Regions from separate parts of the Homo sapiens genome. Here region 1 is linked to region 2. The links come from fine-mapping of genetic effects on gene expression. Tissue or cell type: blood mononuclear cells. Region 2 holds a variant in brackets; the other region holds the start of a gene. All regions are shown on one strand. Distances are between the middles of the regions.

Region 1 (8,095 bases), 24 kb after region 2:
TAGAGAGGTTATAGCCAAACTGAAAAGTCCCACCAATGCCGGCAGCGCAGATGGTCAGGAGCAGGATCCTGCCCTGAATCTGAGGAGAGAGGAGAGAACACAGAGTGACCAACAACAGCCTCCACCCCCTCCCTGGACCAGAGCTGCCAATCACAGCATTGCAATTTATTTGAATCAGGCAGTGATGTCTCCACTTTGCAGATGAGGAAAGTGAGGCACAGAGAGGAGTTACCTGGGTCACATGGCTGGCAGGTAGCAGAGGAACCCAAGCCTCCTGTTCTGAGTCCAGGACCCCACTTTACCCTCACCCCACCCATAGCCCCAACATTTCCCTGAGCTGGAGAGCGGTTCCCATCCCTCCTTGTTGGGCTGCCCCTGAGCACGTCTGCTGTGTTTGGGGAAGACAGTCCCCTGAGCTGGGGCCCCAGTAGAGTAAGGCTCTGCCTCCAGCAGGACAGGAGCCTCTGACTTGCCCCAGGAAAACCTTCTCCAACAGAGTGGCCAGGCTCCAGGAATCTGGGCTGAGCCACCTCTCTTACCTCCCACCAGCATGTTCTGCAATGAGGCTAAGAGAAGATGCCACATGGACCTGCAGGTGCAAGGACTTGGGGACATATGAGTAGTAGAGAGGCAGCATAAATGGCCCAGGTGCCTGGTCCCTATCCCAGCTCTCCCCTTCCTTTCTCATCCTAAGTGACTTCCTTACCTGGACCTGCAGATAATGAAGCCTACTTCTAGGCTGGGTACCCATGAGTCATGCACACTTGGTACACAAAAGGACAGTGAAACACCCTTAGAGATGGAGGGAGAATTCCCCAAGGCATCCCTGATGCCTCATCCTTTGTAGTTGGGATAGTTGGGATTTTCTTTTTTTTTTTTTTTTTTTTTTTTTGAGACTGAGTCTTGGCCTGGCGCAGTGGCTCACACCTGTAATCCCAGCACTTTGGGAGGCCGAGGCGGGTGGATCACAATGTCAGAAGTTTAAGACCAACCTGGCCAAGATGGTGAAACCCCATCTCTACTAAAAACACAAAAATTGGCCGGGCGCAGTGGCTCATGCCTGTAATCCCAGCACTTTGGGAGGCCGAGGCGGGCGGATCACGAGGTCAGGAGATTGAGACCATCCTGGCTAACACGGTGAAATCCCGCCTCTACTAAAAATACAAAAAATTAGCCAGGCGTGGTGGCGGGCACCTGTAGACCCAGCTACTGGGGAGGCTGAGGCAGGAGAATGGTGTGAACCCGGGAGGCGGAGCTAGCAGTGAGCCGAGATAGCGCCACTGCACTCCAGCCTGGGCGACAGAGCGAGACTCCGTCTCAAAAAAAAAAAAAAATTAGCTGGGCGTGTTGGCAGGCGTCTGTAATCCCAGCTACTCGGGAGGCTGAGGCAGAGAACTGCTTGAACCCAGGAGGTGGAGGTTGAGTGAGACTCCGTCTCAAAAAAAAAAAAGAGACGGAGTTTTGCTCTGCCGCCCAGGCTGGAGTGCAATGGCGCAATCTTGGCTCACTGCAATCTCCGCCTCCCAGTTCAAGCGATTCTCCTGCCTCAGCCTCCCGAGTAGCTGGGATTGCAGGCATGCACCACCACACCCAGCTAATTTTTGTATTTTTAGTAGAGACTCCTGACCTCAAGTGATCTGCCCACCTCAGCCTCCAAATTGCTGAGATTACAGACGTGAGCCACCGCACCCGACCTGTAGTTGAGGTCGTCTTAGGGATTCACAGAAGTATTTATCTTTCTCCTTTGGTGATTTTCTGTTTTGTTTTTTGAGACAAGGTCTCATTTTGTCACCCAGGCTGGAGTGCAGTGTCGCAATCTTGATTCACTGCAGCCTCAACCTCCTGGGCTCAAGCGATCCTCCCACCTCAGCCCCCCAAGTAGCTGGGACTACAGGCACACACCATCATGCTGGGCTAATTTTTTTGTAGAGATGGGATTTCACCATATTGCCCAGGCTGGTTTCAAACTCCTGAGCTCAAGCGATACACTCGCCTTGGCCTCCCAAAGTGGTAGGATTACAGGCGTGAGCCACCATACCCAGCCCACTCTTTTGTGATTTTTAATTACAAAATGACACGTTTGTTAAGATTTTTGAAAATTCAGTATATACTGAAAGTTCTCCACTCCTCCAAAGGCACAACAATTAACTCCTTCCCTCAGGTATTTTCCTAGATATTTGCAAAGTAGTTGACTTTACAAAAATTGAATCGTTGATATCTTCCCCCAAAAAATACTGCCTTTCTTGTTCTGGCAAATTGTTCTGTAGAATTAAATGTATTATTTTTGAAAACTTTGATACAATTTTCATGACAGAAGGATGTTTGGCTAAGGTTTTCTGAAGTTTCCAGAACCTACGGACTATTTATTCATTTATTAGTCAAATACTGAGTGTTGGCCGGATGTCGTGGCCCACACCTGCAATCCCTGCACTTTGGGAGGCCGAGGTGGGCAGACCACTTGAGGTCAGGAGTTCGAGACCAGCCTGGCCAACATGGTAAAACCCTGTCTCTACTAAAAATACAAAAATTAGCCGGGCTTGGTGGTGGGCACCTGTAATCCCAGCTACTCAGAAGGCTGAGGCAGAATTGCTTGAATCCGGGAGGGAGGCGGAGGTTGCAGTAAGCCCAGATCGCGCCACTGCCCTCCTGCCTGGGCAACAGAGTGAGACTCCATCTCAAAAAAAAAAAAATGCTGAATGTTTATCTCAGCCAGGAAGTGTGCTGGGGGGCAAGATACAGCTGGGAAAGAGACAGCTGTGCTTTCACCATTCAGTGAGATACTGCACTGGAGGCTGGGGGAGCAGAGGAAGTGGCTCTGGAGGGCAGAATCCTGCTGAAGGCCTTGCCATAGGTCTGGAGACAGGTTGGTGACAGGGGCCCTGGCTGCCCATAGTTCCAATAAGGCCTAAGTAACTTTCTCTAAGGCTGGAAGCCTTAGGAAGAAGCCAGGTGAGAAACCTGGCATCTGGTCCCATTGAGGCCAAATTACAGCTCCACGGGGGCCGCATGGAAGTGAGAGCTCCCTTAAGACAGCAGATGTGAAGGAAGCAGCGAACACAGTGCTTGATGGCAGCTGAGCTCATGTAGCAGGAGATATTGACAGGTCTCTAAGACTACAGGAAATCGTTGAATTCAATGAGATCATGCATGGAGATTGCCTATACCGTGCCTGGTCATGGTAAGCATTCAGACATTAGCTACGATAGGGACCATTAATTCAGCAAACAAAGATTTATTGCCTCCCTATTATGGTCAATAATCCTACTGTTCTAGGTGTTGGGATACAGCAGTGAACAACAGACAAAATCCATGAGCTGTCAGAGCTTTCCTTCCAGCAGAGAAAGACAAGCAATCGCAAAATGAACAAGCAAAATATATAGTACATCAGCTGGTGCTACAGAGACTTAAAGCAGTGAAGGGGCGTAGGAAGTGTTTGGACCAGGTGGTGCTATTTTATTTTATTTTATTTTATTTTTATTTTTTAGAGACAAGGTCTCGCTACGTCGCCCACGCTGGAGTGCAGTGGTGAGATCCTATTAGATCCCTGCAGCTTCGAACTCCTGGGCGATCCTCCCACCTTAGTTGGTGCTATTTTAAATAAGGCTGTCAAGGAATACAAGTGCAAATCAAGACAAAGGAGGTGAGGGAATGTGCCATGCAAATACCTAAAGAAATCAGTCCAGATTGGGAAGGAACCCCTAGAAGCGGTGGGCAGTGCAGTGCGGGCGCTCTCCTCTGGCTGCGCCCTTTCCCTCTGTGAGGCAGGACGTCAGGTCAGAGCTGAGGGAGCATGAGGAGGAAAGAGGCGGGGGTGGGAAACAGTCTCGGGAGGGGGCGAGCAGTCAGGATTGCAGCGCTCGGAGGGCTTACTGCCTCTGAGGTCAGGGCTGATCGGCAGAGGATTTAGCATCTCTGGGGGCTGGGATGCCAGGGTCCAGCAACCTTGCTCTGGCCCACAGGCCGACCCTGGGCGTAAACACCTGCCTATGCACATCTGAGCCTAGCACCTAACGCCACTGTACATACAAGCACGATATTTTTGAACATTTGACGACTTAGTTAAGCCTCCCAGGTGGCTGCACCTGCGCAGTTCACTCAGGTCCGCAATCCCTCATCTGAAACGCCTGGTCTGGGCAAGTATGAGAATTCATACCATTCTAGATCGCAGGAGGGCGTGGAGCATTCGAAAGAGGGGCCTGAGCGGAGGTCTTGCTGTCCCAGGGAGACCCCGGCTGCCATTAGCAAGCGGTGAGCCGGCAGCCTGTGCGCGGAGGGAAGGGCAGCGCGCAGCGCCCAGTGGTGAAAGAGGCGCTAGCGCACGCGCAGTGAGCGTTTGAGAGGAGCAAACCCGTCGAGACGAAGCTGTAGCGCAAGCGCAGTGGGTATTGAGAGCGGCCGCACCAGCTGAGGGTTCGCGCAACGCTAAACGATGGCCGGGACTAAGGCCTGAGACTCAAGCTCAGGCGCAGTGAAGCGCAGAGCCGCTAGAGTGTCGCGGAGGGCGCCTGAGGCGCATGCGCGGACTCAGCGTTTTTAAGAAGGGCTGGGGGTGCTGGGGAGTTCGCCCCAGCGTGTTGGGGGGGAGTCGCCGCCGCGGGGGGGGGGTTTGGGGTCACCGCCGCGGGGTTTGTCGCCGCCGCTGGGAGCTCACCTGCGTCCGAGGCCGTAAGGACGGCTCCAGTTCATCCTCCATCCGCCTCTGCCGCAGCACTGAGGCTGAAAAGCCGCTCACTCCTTACTCGGCTAAGCCCCAAGCTCATCTCTGCAGGCCGGAAGGGAGCTCTGGTCCAAGGTCATCTCGGCCAAGCCCCTGCATTCGCCCTCGCAAGTGCCAGCAAGCGACTCTGGTCGCCGCGCTCCCAAGTCCTCCCCCGAAATTCCGGCTCTGGCCCCTCGTCCCCCTCCTTTGCTACAGTCTCTGGACTAAATGTCTGCGGGTCTCTGTCTCTCGCTGGTCTGACCTCAGCCGCAACCCTGCGCGATTCCCTGCGCCGGTCGCCACTGCCGGCCGCCAGAACCTCGGAGGCCACTGCCCCTGGGCGTTCTCCGGAGGGCCAAGCCCTTGGTTGTGCACATCTATGCACGCCCCACCTACACCCCCCCCCCCCCACACACACACACTTTGGTTCAGGTATCCCCGACCTTTCCCCAGAGGACGGGAAAATTAGGAAAGACCGAAAGATAGACCCACCAGTCTTCGGAGCGCTCTCATCTGTGCGTCCTGGGCAGAGCGAGAGACTTGGCGGAATGCGGGTAGGAGAACCGGTCTCGGGTTGCCGCCAGGGGATCCATTGCGTGAGAGGCAGGTCCGACTTATGCTGGGGGCACTTGGAGTTGAGGAACCACAGAGTCCACTGAACCGGATTAATCTTTTATCCCTCAGGGCTTCTCAGGCCCTGCATGGAGGAATCCAGGAGCTGGACAAAGACCAACTGAAACTAGACTTGCCAAAGATGCTATTTGTGGTCACAGAAACATAGAGCTGGACATGACCTTAAGAAGTCACCTGAGCAGACACTGTGATGGGCACTGTAGTAGCTCTATTGCTCAGACTTGGTTTTTGTTTGACTTTTGCTGCTCTGAACTTTAATTCCTAAAAACACTGCATTTTTAAGGAAAAACACAAAATATTAGCAGTTATAATAAATAGGTATTTTATTGCATGCTTTTCGTGCATCTATTAAGATGATCATATGGGTATTCTCCTTTAATCTGTTAATGAGATCAGTTACATCAATAAACTTTCTAATGGTAAACCATTCTTGAATTCTTGGGGTAGACGCAACTTGGTCATAATATTATTGTTATTAATACATTGTTAGTTTCAACTGCTGATATTTTATTTTGATAGGTTAATTTTTTTCTTTTTTTTTTTTAATTTATTTATTTTTTTTTTATTGATCATTCTTGGGTGTTTCTCGCAGAGGGGGATTTGGCAGGGTCATAGGACAATAGTGGAGGGAAGGTCAGCAGATAAACAAGTGAACAAAGGTCTCTGGTTTTCCTAGGCAGAGGACCCTGCGGCCTTGGCCTTCCGCAGTGTTTGTGTCCCTGGGTACTTAAGATTAGGGAGTGGTGATGACTCTTAACGAGCATGCTGCCTTCAAGCATCTGTTTAACAAAGCACATCTTGCACCGCCCTTAATCCATTTAACCCTGAGTGGACACAGCACATGTTTCAGAGAGCACAGGGTTGGGGATAAGGTCACAGATCAACAGGATCCCAAGGCAGAAGAATTTTTCTTAGTACAGAACAAAATGAAAAGTCTCCCATGTCTACTTCTATCCACAGAGACCCGGCAACCATCCGATTTCTCAATTTTTTCCCCACCCTTCCCGCCTTTCTATTCCACAAAACCGCCATTGTCATCATGGCCCATCCCCAATGAGCCGCTGGGCACACCTCCCAGACGGGGTCGTGGCCGGGCAGAGGGGCTCCTCACTTCCCAGTAGGGGCGGCCGGGCAGAAGCGCCCCTCACCTCCCGGATGGGGCGGCTGGCCGGGCGGGGGGCTGACCCCCCCACCACCCTCCCGGACGGGGCGGCTGGCCAGGCAGAGGGGCTCCTCACTTCCCAGTAGGGACGGCCGGGCAGAGGCGCCCCTCACCTCCTGGATAGGGCGGCTGGCTGGGCGGGGGGCTGTCCCCCCCACCTCCCTCCCGGACGGGGCGGCTGGCCGGGCAGAGGGGTCCTCACTTCCCAGTAGGGGCGGCCGGGCAGAGGCGCCCCTCACCTCCCGGACGGGGCGGCCGGCCGGAAGGGGGGCTGACCCCCCCCACCTCCCTCCCGGACGGGGCGGCTGGCCGACCCCCCCCCCCCCACCCCGCCTCCCTCCCGGACGGGGCGGCTGGCCGGGCAGAGGGGCTCCTCACTTTCCAGTAGGGGCGGCCGGGCAGAGGCGCCCCTCACCTCCCGGACGGGGCGACTGGCCAGGCGGGGGGCTGATCCCCCCACCTCCCTCCCGGACGGGGCGGCTGGCCAGGCGGGGGGCTGACCCCCCCCACCTCCCTCCCGGACGGGGCGGCTGGCCGGGCAGGGGGCTGACCCCCCCTCCCCCCTCCCGGACGGGGCGGCTGGCCGGGCAGGGGGCTGACCCCCCCACCTCCCTCCCGGATGGGGCGGCTGGCCAGGTGGGGGGATGACCCCCCCACCTCCCTCCCGGGCGGGGCGGCTGGCCGGGCAGAGGGGCTCCTCACTTCCCAGTAGGGGCGGCCGGGCAGAGGCGCCCCTCACCTCCCGGATGGGGCGGCTGGCCAGGCGGGGGGCTGATCCCCCCACCTCCCTCCCAGACGGGGCGGCTGGCCGGGCGGGGGGCTGACCCCCCACCTCCCTCCCGGACTGGGCGGCTGGCCGGGCGGGGGGCTGACCCCCCCACCTCCCTCCTGGACGGGGCGTCTGGCCGGGCAGAGGGGCTCCTCACTTCCCAGTAGGGGCGGCCGGGCAGAGGAGCCCCTCACCTCCAGGACGGGGCGGCTGGCCGGGCGGGGGGCTGACCCCCCCCACCTCCCTCCCGGACGGGGTGGCTGCTGGGCGGAGACGCTCCTCACTTCCCAGACGGGGTGGTTGCCGGACGGAGGGGCTCCTCACTTCTCAGACGGGGCGGTTGCCAGGCAGAGGGTTTCCTCACTTCTCAGACGGAGCAGCCGGGCAGAGACGCTCCCCACCTCCCAGACAGGGCTGCGGCCCAGCAGAGGCGCTCCTCACATCCCAGACAGGGCGGCGGGGCAGAGGTGCTCCCCACATCTCAGACGATGGGCGGCCGGGCAGAGACGCTCCTCACTTCCTAGATGGGATGGCGGCGGGGAAGAGGCGCTCCTCGCTTCCCAGATGGGATGGCGGCCGGGCAGAGACGCTCCTCACTTTCCAGACTGGGCAGCCAGGCAGAGGGGCTCCTCACATCCCAGACGATGGGTGGCCAAGCAGAGACGCTCCTCACTTCCCATACGGGGTGGCGGCCGGGCAGAGGCTGCAATCTCGGCTCTCCGGGAGGCCAAGGCAGGCGGCTGGGAGGTGGTTGCAGCGAGCCGAGATCACGCCACTGCACTCCAGCCTGGGCACCATTGAGCACTGAGTGAACGAGACTCCATCTGCAATC
Region 2 (8,100 bases):
GTAGGGCCTTTGGGCCTCCTCGGAGGTGATTAGGTCATGAGGGCAGAGCCTGCATGAATGGGATTGGTGCCCTTATAAAAGAGACCCCAGAGAGCTCCCTTGCCCCTTCTGCCATGTCTAGGAGAACACAGCAAGAAGACCGCCATCTATGAATCAAGACATGGGCCCTCAACAGACACTGAATCCACTGGCACCTTGATCTTGGACTTCCCAGCCTCCAGAACCATGAAAAATAAATTTCTGTTGTTTATAAGCCACCCAGGCTGTGGTTCTTAGTTATAGCAGCCCGACGGACTAAGACACAAAAGAAATAAAAACATATGTTTAGACAATTATTATTGTAGGAACATTCACAGCAGTTTTATTCATGATGGCCAAGAATTAGAAACAGCCAAAATGTTCACCAACAGGTAGATGGATAAATAAATCATGGTCTAACCACAGAGGGGAATACTACTCAGCAATACAAAGGAGTCTCTCCTAATACGTGCAACAACATTCATGAATCCCAAAAACTTTATCTGGAGCCAAGCCAGACACAAATGTGTACATACAGTACGGAATGACTTCAGATTCTGAAAAAAGGCAAATCTGACCAATTGAGGCAGAAAGCAGGTCAGTGGTTCCCCAGGTCTGGGACTGGGGTGGGTTACTGATAGCAAATGGGCATGTGGGTGCCTTGGGGTAGGGTAAAGGTTCCATCTTGATCACGGTGGTGTTTCCCAAGTGTATACACTCACCAAAACTATACTTAGAACTCAAAACTCGCCAAATATATACTTAAAATGGATGCAGTTGGTTATGTATAAATTATACCTCAATAAAGTTGATTAAAAACATCAATTCCTCAGAAAATTCTTTTCTGACCACTCCCCTCTCAGACGAGGTCGGGCCTCCTGGTATGCATACCCATACCCACTACAACCTGTATTTATTTTTTTTGAAACATGGTCTCTTTCTGTTGTCCAGGCTGGAGTGCAGTGGCTCAATTAGGACTCACTGCAGCCTCGACCTCCCAGGCTCAAGTGATCCTCCCATTTCAGCCTCCTGAGTAGCTGGGACCACAGGCATGTACCACCACACCCAGCTAATTTTTTTTTTTTTTTTTTTTGGTAGAAACAGGATCTTACTATGTGGCCCAGGCTGGTCTCAAACTTCTGGTCTCAAAGCAATCTTCCCATCTTGGCCTCCCAAAGTGCTGGGATTACAGGCATCAGCCACCTCACCTGGCCAACCTGTATTTTTCTTTCACTGCATTTCCTGAGTCTGTAATTATTATTATTATGTTTTAAAGAGATGAAGTCTCCCTCTGTCACCCAGTCTGGCATGCAGTGGTGTGATTGTAGCTTACTGCTACCTTGAACTCTTGGACTCAAGTGATCCTGCTGCCTCAGCCTCCTGAGTAGCTAGAGCTGTTAGCACATACCACCATGCCCAGCTAATGTTTAAAATTTTTTGTAGAGATAGGGGGTCTCACTATGTTACCTAGGCTGGTTTCAAACTCTGGCCTCAATTGATCCTCCCACCTTGGCCTCCCAAAGTGCTGGGATTACAGTCATGAGCTGCCACAACCAGCCTGTAATTATGTTGTTACTGATTTTCTGTCAGTTAATTACCTTTAGCCTGGAATACCACGCTCACCATTGATTGCTAAGCACCTGGAGCCATGTCTGCACACAAAGGGTGCTCAATAAACACTCCTTAAATGAGGAATGCAGGAGGGAGTGAGGACCAGGGCCCTGGCAGGAAGCAGAGGACAGGACAGTAGCTGGCTTTGGCTCTGGCCACCCCTTTGGGACTAGAGTTCTGTTGACTGGATAACCTCCAGGCTCCTCCACGTGGGGCCCTGGGCCCGCCTGGGGAAGTTGAGTCTGTGTAATTCCTTGGAGATCTCTTGGAAGGTCTTGCCTTTGGTCTCAGGAAGGAACAGGCCAGTGTAGATGGCCCCACAGACACAGACACCAAGGAAAGGGACATAGAGGAAGTGGGACAAGGCCTCCTGCGGATTAAAAAAGACCCCAAGACCTGGTGTGTCTCCATCAACCCCTAAACAGAAGGCCCATGACAGGTCGTGAGGAGGCATTTGCCCCCCTCTTTGCTCCCCTAAGACCCCTCCCTTTCAGTCTCAGTCTCCCTGGATGGAAGCCTCCCCCTGGGGTTCTCAGGATGACAGGGACACAGCCTAAGGCAGGGCCCCCAGCGGGAGGGGCGGGCCTACCATGATAAAGGGAAATCCCAGGCCGACCAGGATGAGCATGATCCACATGAGCGCCCCGCAGACCATGCAGGCAGCAGGCCTGGCCATCTGGTCAAACAGCTCTGTGGCCAGGATCCCCGTCACTCCGGCTAGAAGGAGGGGCAGGGACAGGGGGCTGCTGGCCAGGGTTCCCTGCCTGCCTCTCCCCGACCCCAGCCCAGACATGGGAGTGGGAGCCCAGGCCCAGTCTGTATGGGGGGCCCCTCAGTGCTCTCCTCCTGCCATTCCCTCCCAGAAGCCCCGGCATGAGGTGGTCTCTGAGGGCCTGCAGGGGACATTGCATTCACACCCACCCACTGTGCACCCAGGCACCCATCACTCCTTCTATGTGATGATGGATGCCCAGAGCCCCTTGGGCCCACTCACCAGGGCCAATGCCAAAGCTGAGGATGAAGGCAAAGATGCAGGCCATGGCCAGGTAGAGTGTCCAGGGGAAGGAGCTCTGCCGTGGACGGGGCGGGGGTGAGGTGGAAGTCAGCCCGGCCTGGACCCCCCAGCCCTCATCCACCCCAGCTACCTGCAGGCACAGGGCCACAGTGAAGATGCTCCCCCAGCAGGTCATCAGGCTGTACCCACCGATGAGCAGCACGCGCCGACCCACCCTCTCGATTACCACACACTGCAAAGGCAGAAAGCACAGACCCACACACCCAGCCATGGTCCCTGAGGTCTGGGGCAGGCAATGGGAAGGGGTCTCCTGAGAAAGCTGGTGGTGGAGGTGAGGGTAGTTTATTGCTTCAGTGTGACTTTATTAATTTCCCAAAGGAACTTGGTCAATCAATCACCCAACTTCAGCCAGTTTCCGCATCTCAAAATGGTGCTGGAAGTGACCCGCAAACCGTAGATGCTCAATAGATGCTCTCTAACTCACTGCATTGATTGATTGATTGAGACAGGGTCTTACTGGTCTCACTGAGCTGAGACAGGGTCTCACTGGTCCAGCCCACGCTGGAGTGCAGTGGCACAATCTCGGTTTACTGCAGTCTCAACCTCCTAGGCTCAAGTGATCCTCCCACCTCAGCCTCGCCAGTAGCTAGCACTACAGGCGAAGACCACCACGCCTGGCTAATTTTTGTATTTTTTGTAGAGACGGGGTTTCACCATGTTGCCCAGGCTGGTCTCCAACTCCTGATCCCACCTCAGCACTATTGCCTGGGCTGGAGTGCAATGGCACCATCTCGGCTCACTGCAACCTCCACCTACTGGGTTCATGCGATTCTCCTGCCTCAGCCTCCCAAGTACCTGGGATTACAGGCGCCCGCCACCACGCCGGGATAATTTTTTGTATTTTTTAGTAGAGACGGGGGTTTCACTGTGTTGGCCAGGCTGGTCTCGAACTCCTGACCTTGTGATCCACCCACCTCGGCCTCCCAAAGTGCTGGGCTTACAGGCATGAGCCACCGCACCTGGCCCCTCACTGCATTTTAACACCATAAGCTGGAGTGTAAACTGGTTTAATGCAGAGGACCTGGGGGTCCCTCCCCACAGGGCTGGTGGAGGAAGGGCACCCTCCAGACTCACACTAACAACCGCCGTGAGCAGCTCGCAGCTCCCAGTCCCGATGATCGCGTACTGGATCTTCGCTTCCGGCACTCCTGCCTTC[C/T]GGAACACGGAGGAGGCGTAGGCGTACACCTGGGAGAGGGTGGCTTTCAGGCCTGGGCTCCCTTCCACCTCCCATGGCTCCCAGCGGCCTGCAACACCAAGCCCCCGGGGCCCAGGGTGTGCGGCGGGGCAGGGGTCTCACCGAGTCATTCCCGCAGAGCTCCATGGCACTGCCCAGAACCACGAGGCTTGTCACCTGTCTCCTCAGGGCCCGATGCTGGAACAGCTCCCATGGGCGCCGGGCACGGCAGCCCTGGCAGGCAGCGCGCTCCTCCTCCAGCTCCTCCAGCTCCCCTGCCAAGTCCCCGGAGCCCCGGAGCCGCCGTAGTGCTGAGCCAGGGAGGAGGGTACTGAGCTCCCCGTCCCCAAGCCCCTCTTTGGTCCCCCTACAGGGACGCCCCCCTCCATCCCACCATTCCTTTCCTTCTTGGCTCACTCTCTGTCTCTGAGTCTGTCTGTGTGTGTGTGTGTCTCTCTCTCTGCCTCTGTCTCTCTCAATCTCTCTGTCTCTGTGTGTGTCTCTGTGTGTGTGTGTGTTTCTCTCTCTGCCTCTCAATCTCTCTGTCTCTGTGTCTGTGTGTGTGTGTGTGTTTCTCTCTCTCTCTGCCTCTGTCTCTCTCAATCTCTCTGTCTCTGTGTCTGTGTGTGTGTGTTTCTCTCTCTCTCTGCCTGTCTTTCTCAATCTCTCTGTCTCTGTGTGTGTCTCTGTGTGTGTGTGTGTTTCTCTCTCTGCCTCTCAATCTCTCTGTCTCTGTGTCTGTGTGTGTGTTTCTCTCTCTCTCTGCCTCTGTCTCTCTCAATCTCTCTGTCTCTGTGTGTGTGTGTGTGTGTGTGTTTCTCTCTCTCTCTGCCTCTGTCTCTCTCAATCTCTCTGTCTCTGTGTCTGTGTGTGTGTGTGTTTCTCTCTCTCTGCCTCTGTCTCTCTCAATCTCTCTGTCTCTGTGTCTGTGTGTGTGTGTGTTTCTCTCTCTCTCTGCCTCTGTCTCTCTCAATCTCTCTGTCTCTGTGTCTGTCTGTGTGTGTGTGTGTTTCTCTCTCTCTGCCTCTGTCTCTCTCAATCTCTCTGTCTCTGTTTGCCTCCCTGGTCAGATGGAGATGATCTTCCTTGCCCTGACATTTCTCAGGGCTGTTGCGGTGTTGCCACCATGGATGAAAAAAGGCTTTAGAAAGAAACGCAGGGTTCTGCGGACATATCAGACAGGACATGACTATTGCAGCACATTATCAAACCCAATTCTTCACCCCTCCCTGCACCCACACTGCTTGCTGTGTGATTTTGCAGTTCCTCCCACTAAAGGGGCAAGTACTGCCTACATCCCTGCTCCTGGCTCTGGGCTCGGCCAATAGGATGAGGCTGCAGTGAGGGCGTACCATGTTCCAGCCTAAGCCTTAAGAGGCCTTGCTCACTTCTACTTGCTCTTCTGCCTTCATGAGAACATTCCAGGCTAGCCAGGAGGATGACAAGACATGGACAGCCAAAGGGGCCCAGCTAAGCCACCCTCACTGGGACTATTCTAGATCAGCCAGCCAATGCCCAGCTGAGCTGCAGTTGCAGGAATGACCAAGATCAGCAGAGCCATCAGCCAGAACCATCCTAGATCAGCCCAGCCCAGAGGACTTAGAGGCTTAGGCTAAATAATTGCTTTTTTTGTTTCTTTACCACCGAGATGTTATGATCATCTATTAGTCAGCAATAGAAAGCTGATCAATAAATTGGCACCAGGAGTTGGTGCTACCGTAACAAAGACCTGTGAAATATGGTATCAGTTCCAAGACGAGGCAGAGGACGGCGATGAGGCTGGAGAAATGAAAAGCTATGTTATATAGTGCAGTAACACGGAAGAAAGAAAATGGGCTCAGTGAACTTATGGACTTGAGCAAAGAAAACTCCAAATGTTGAAAGCATGAACTGGTTGCTGTTAGATGCATATTCTAAGCTTGCTGTAAGACATGAAGAATTAGCTCAGAAAATAACTGGCCAGTTTGCAAGCAGAATTCAGAGGCAACAAAATTTAATTAAACGTAGCATATTTCAGAAACACTGGGTTAGTTGAAAACAACAACAAAAAATGTTTTCTCGCCTCTATCCTCTCCAGCTAGCAAAAGAATCCCAAATTAAGTAACAGCCTGTGAGCAAAGATCAAATCCAGAGCACTGCCAGGAAGCCATGGACTCATAGTAAAGATCAAATCAAGGGTATAGCTTAAAGCAGTGCCTCACAGACCCTCACAACTAGAAAAGGGGGCATTTAGGAGGCTTGAGGGCGTTGATTCACGGTAGCCTGACATACCCTAAATACCAGCAATTAGGCCTTGGGAGAGAAGCCTGTCTCAAAAATAATTGTGAGCGTGGTTTGTTGACACATGAAAAAACCTCGAATACATAGAAAATTCACATCATTTTTGAGAAAGTTGTATTGGCAAAAGCTCTGCCAGTTTGGACAAAAAAAAGACCAGGACAATTTGAAATATAAAGACTTCTGTGCCCCAACTTTGTTTTCTTTTCTTTTCTTTTTTTTTTTTTTTTTTTTGAGATGGAGTCTCACTCTGTCACCAGGCTGGAGTGCAGTGTGCACTGGCACAATCTTGGCTCACTGCAACCTCCGCCTCTCGGGTTCAAGCAATTCTCCTGCCACTGCAACCTCCGCCTCTCGGGTTCAAGCAATTCTCCTGCCTCAGCCTCCCTAGTAGCTGGGACTACAGGTACGTGCCACCATACCCAGCTAATTTTTGTATTGTTAGTAGAGATGGGGTTTCACCATGTTGGCCAGGCTGGTCTTGATGTCTTGACCTCGTGATCTGCCCGCCTCAGCCTCCCTGGGATTACAGGCGTGAGCTGGCGCCCAGCCTGCCCCAACTCTCTATAGGCAGGAAGGAGGCTGAGAAATTTGCTCAACCATCAAAAGCAGCACATTGTGCAACGCCCTCTTCAGAAGGAATCAAGGAAGGTGAAAGAAAAGGAAAAACATCTCAGAGGGTAGACCCAAGAAGCATGGAGAGCCACGCATAGTGGTGTGTGCCTAGAGTCCCAGCTACTCAGGAGGCTGAGACAGGAGGATCGCCTGGGCCCAGGAGCTCTGGGTTGTAGTACGCTAGGCAGATCAGGTGTCTGCACTAAGTTCAGCATCAATATAGTGACATCCCAGGAGCAGGGACCACCAGGCTGCCTAAGGAGGAATGCACTGGCCCAGGTTGGAAATGGGACAGTTCAAAACTCCCATGCTAGCCAGATACAATGGCTCATGCCTATAATCCACGCACTTTGGGAGGCCAAGGGGGGAGGATCATTTGATCTCAGGAGTTTGAGACCTGCCCAGGCAAAGAGGTGAAACTCCATCTTTACAAAAAATACAATAATAAAAAAAAATTAGCCAAGCGTGGTGGCACGGGCCAGTAGTCCCAGCTACTCAGGAGGCTGAGGTGGGAGAATTGATTGGGCCTGGGAGGTGGAGGTTGCAGTGAGCTGAGATCACACCACTCCAGCCTGGGCGACAGAGTGAGACCCTGTCCCAAACAAAACCAAAAAAACAAGAACAAAAAAGAAGAAAACTTCCGTGCTGATCAACAATGGCGTCATGCCTATGAACAGCCACAGCACTCCAGCCTGGACAAGCGAGAACCTGTCTCTAAAAGATAAAAAAAATAAAAAAAATAAAAGAACCATGGCCTGGGGTGCCCTTCATAGGGGGTAGGGGACAGAGCTGGAACTTGAACAAAGAATACTCCCTACCCCCAAGGCAGGGGACATGGCCATATTTTCCTAGGGGCGCTTCAGAATTGTTATAGATTAGTGACTGCACTGTGCCTGCCTTGCTTCCTCGTTTTTGAAATGAGAGCATTAATTTTGGTTACCTCATCTTACTTTTTACCATTGCATGCTGAGTGTGGGAAGGGAAGAAGACTCATCTTTCTAGATCCTAGGTTTCTGGATCAAGAAAAGGCCCATATAGACTTAATGTGGCGTAAGATCTGGGACTTCAAGCCCGATGCCATGATTGGATGAGACTTTGGGGGATCCTGGGATGGGACTGAACACATTTTGCACAGAGGAGAGACATAAGTAATAATTGCGGCCATGGTGACAGAGAAGAGTACACTAATGGGCCCCGGTCTTCACCCCTCCTTAAATCCACAGCCCTTGCGATGGGAGAGGATATGCCATCAATTTTCCCATCCCTTGACTTGGGATTTGGCAGTATGACTGACTCGCTTTGGCCAATGGAATGTTAATGGCACGAGGGA

The links. PIP is the estimated chance that this variant, and not a neighbour inherited with it, causes the effect.
Region 1: SLC2A11 starts here. The variant in region 2 is fine-mapped to the expression of SLC2A11 in blood mononuclear cells (TOPMed, PIP above 0.99).

Annotation. Positions count from the first base shown.
Region 1 is chr22:23,854,088-23,862,182 of GRCh38, reverse strand. SLC2A11 (solute carrier family 2 member 11) reads right to left here and starts at 4,308. Exons shown (of 12, transcript NM_001024939.4): 1 at 4,154-4,308; 2 at 1-79. The coding sequence starts at 4,183.
Region 2 is chr22:23,878,548-23,886,647 of GRCh38, reverse strand. SLC2A11 (solute carrier family 2 member 11) reads right to left here. Exons shown (of 12, transcript NM_001024939.4): 7 at 4,002-4,189; 8 at 3,779-3,889; 9 at 2,775-2,876; 10 at 2,624-2,699; 11 at 2,219-2,346; 12 at 336-1,999. The coding sequence ends at 1,799. It also overlaps the pseudogene RN7SL268P. Among named protein-coding and RNA genes, the nearest start is that of MIF, 12 kb to the left of the region's middle. The variant C/T (reference allele first, on the strand shown) is at 3,861.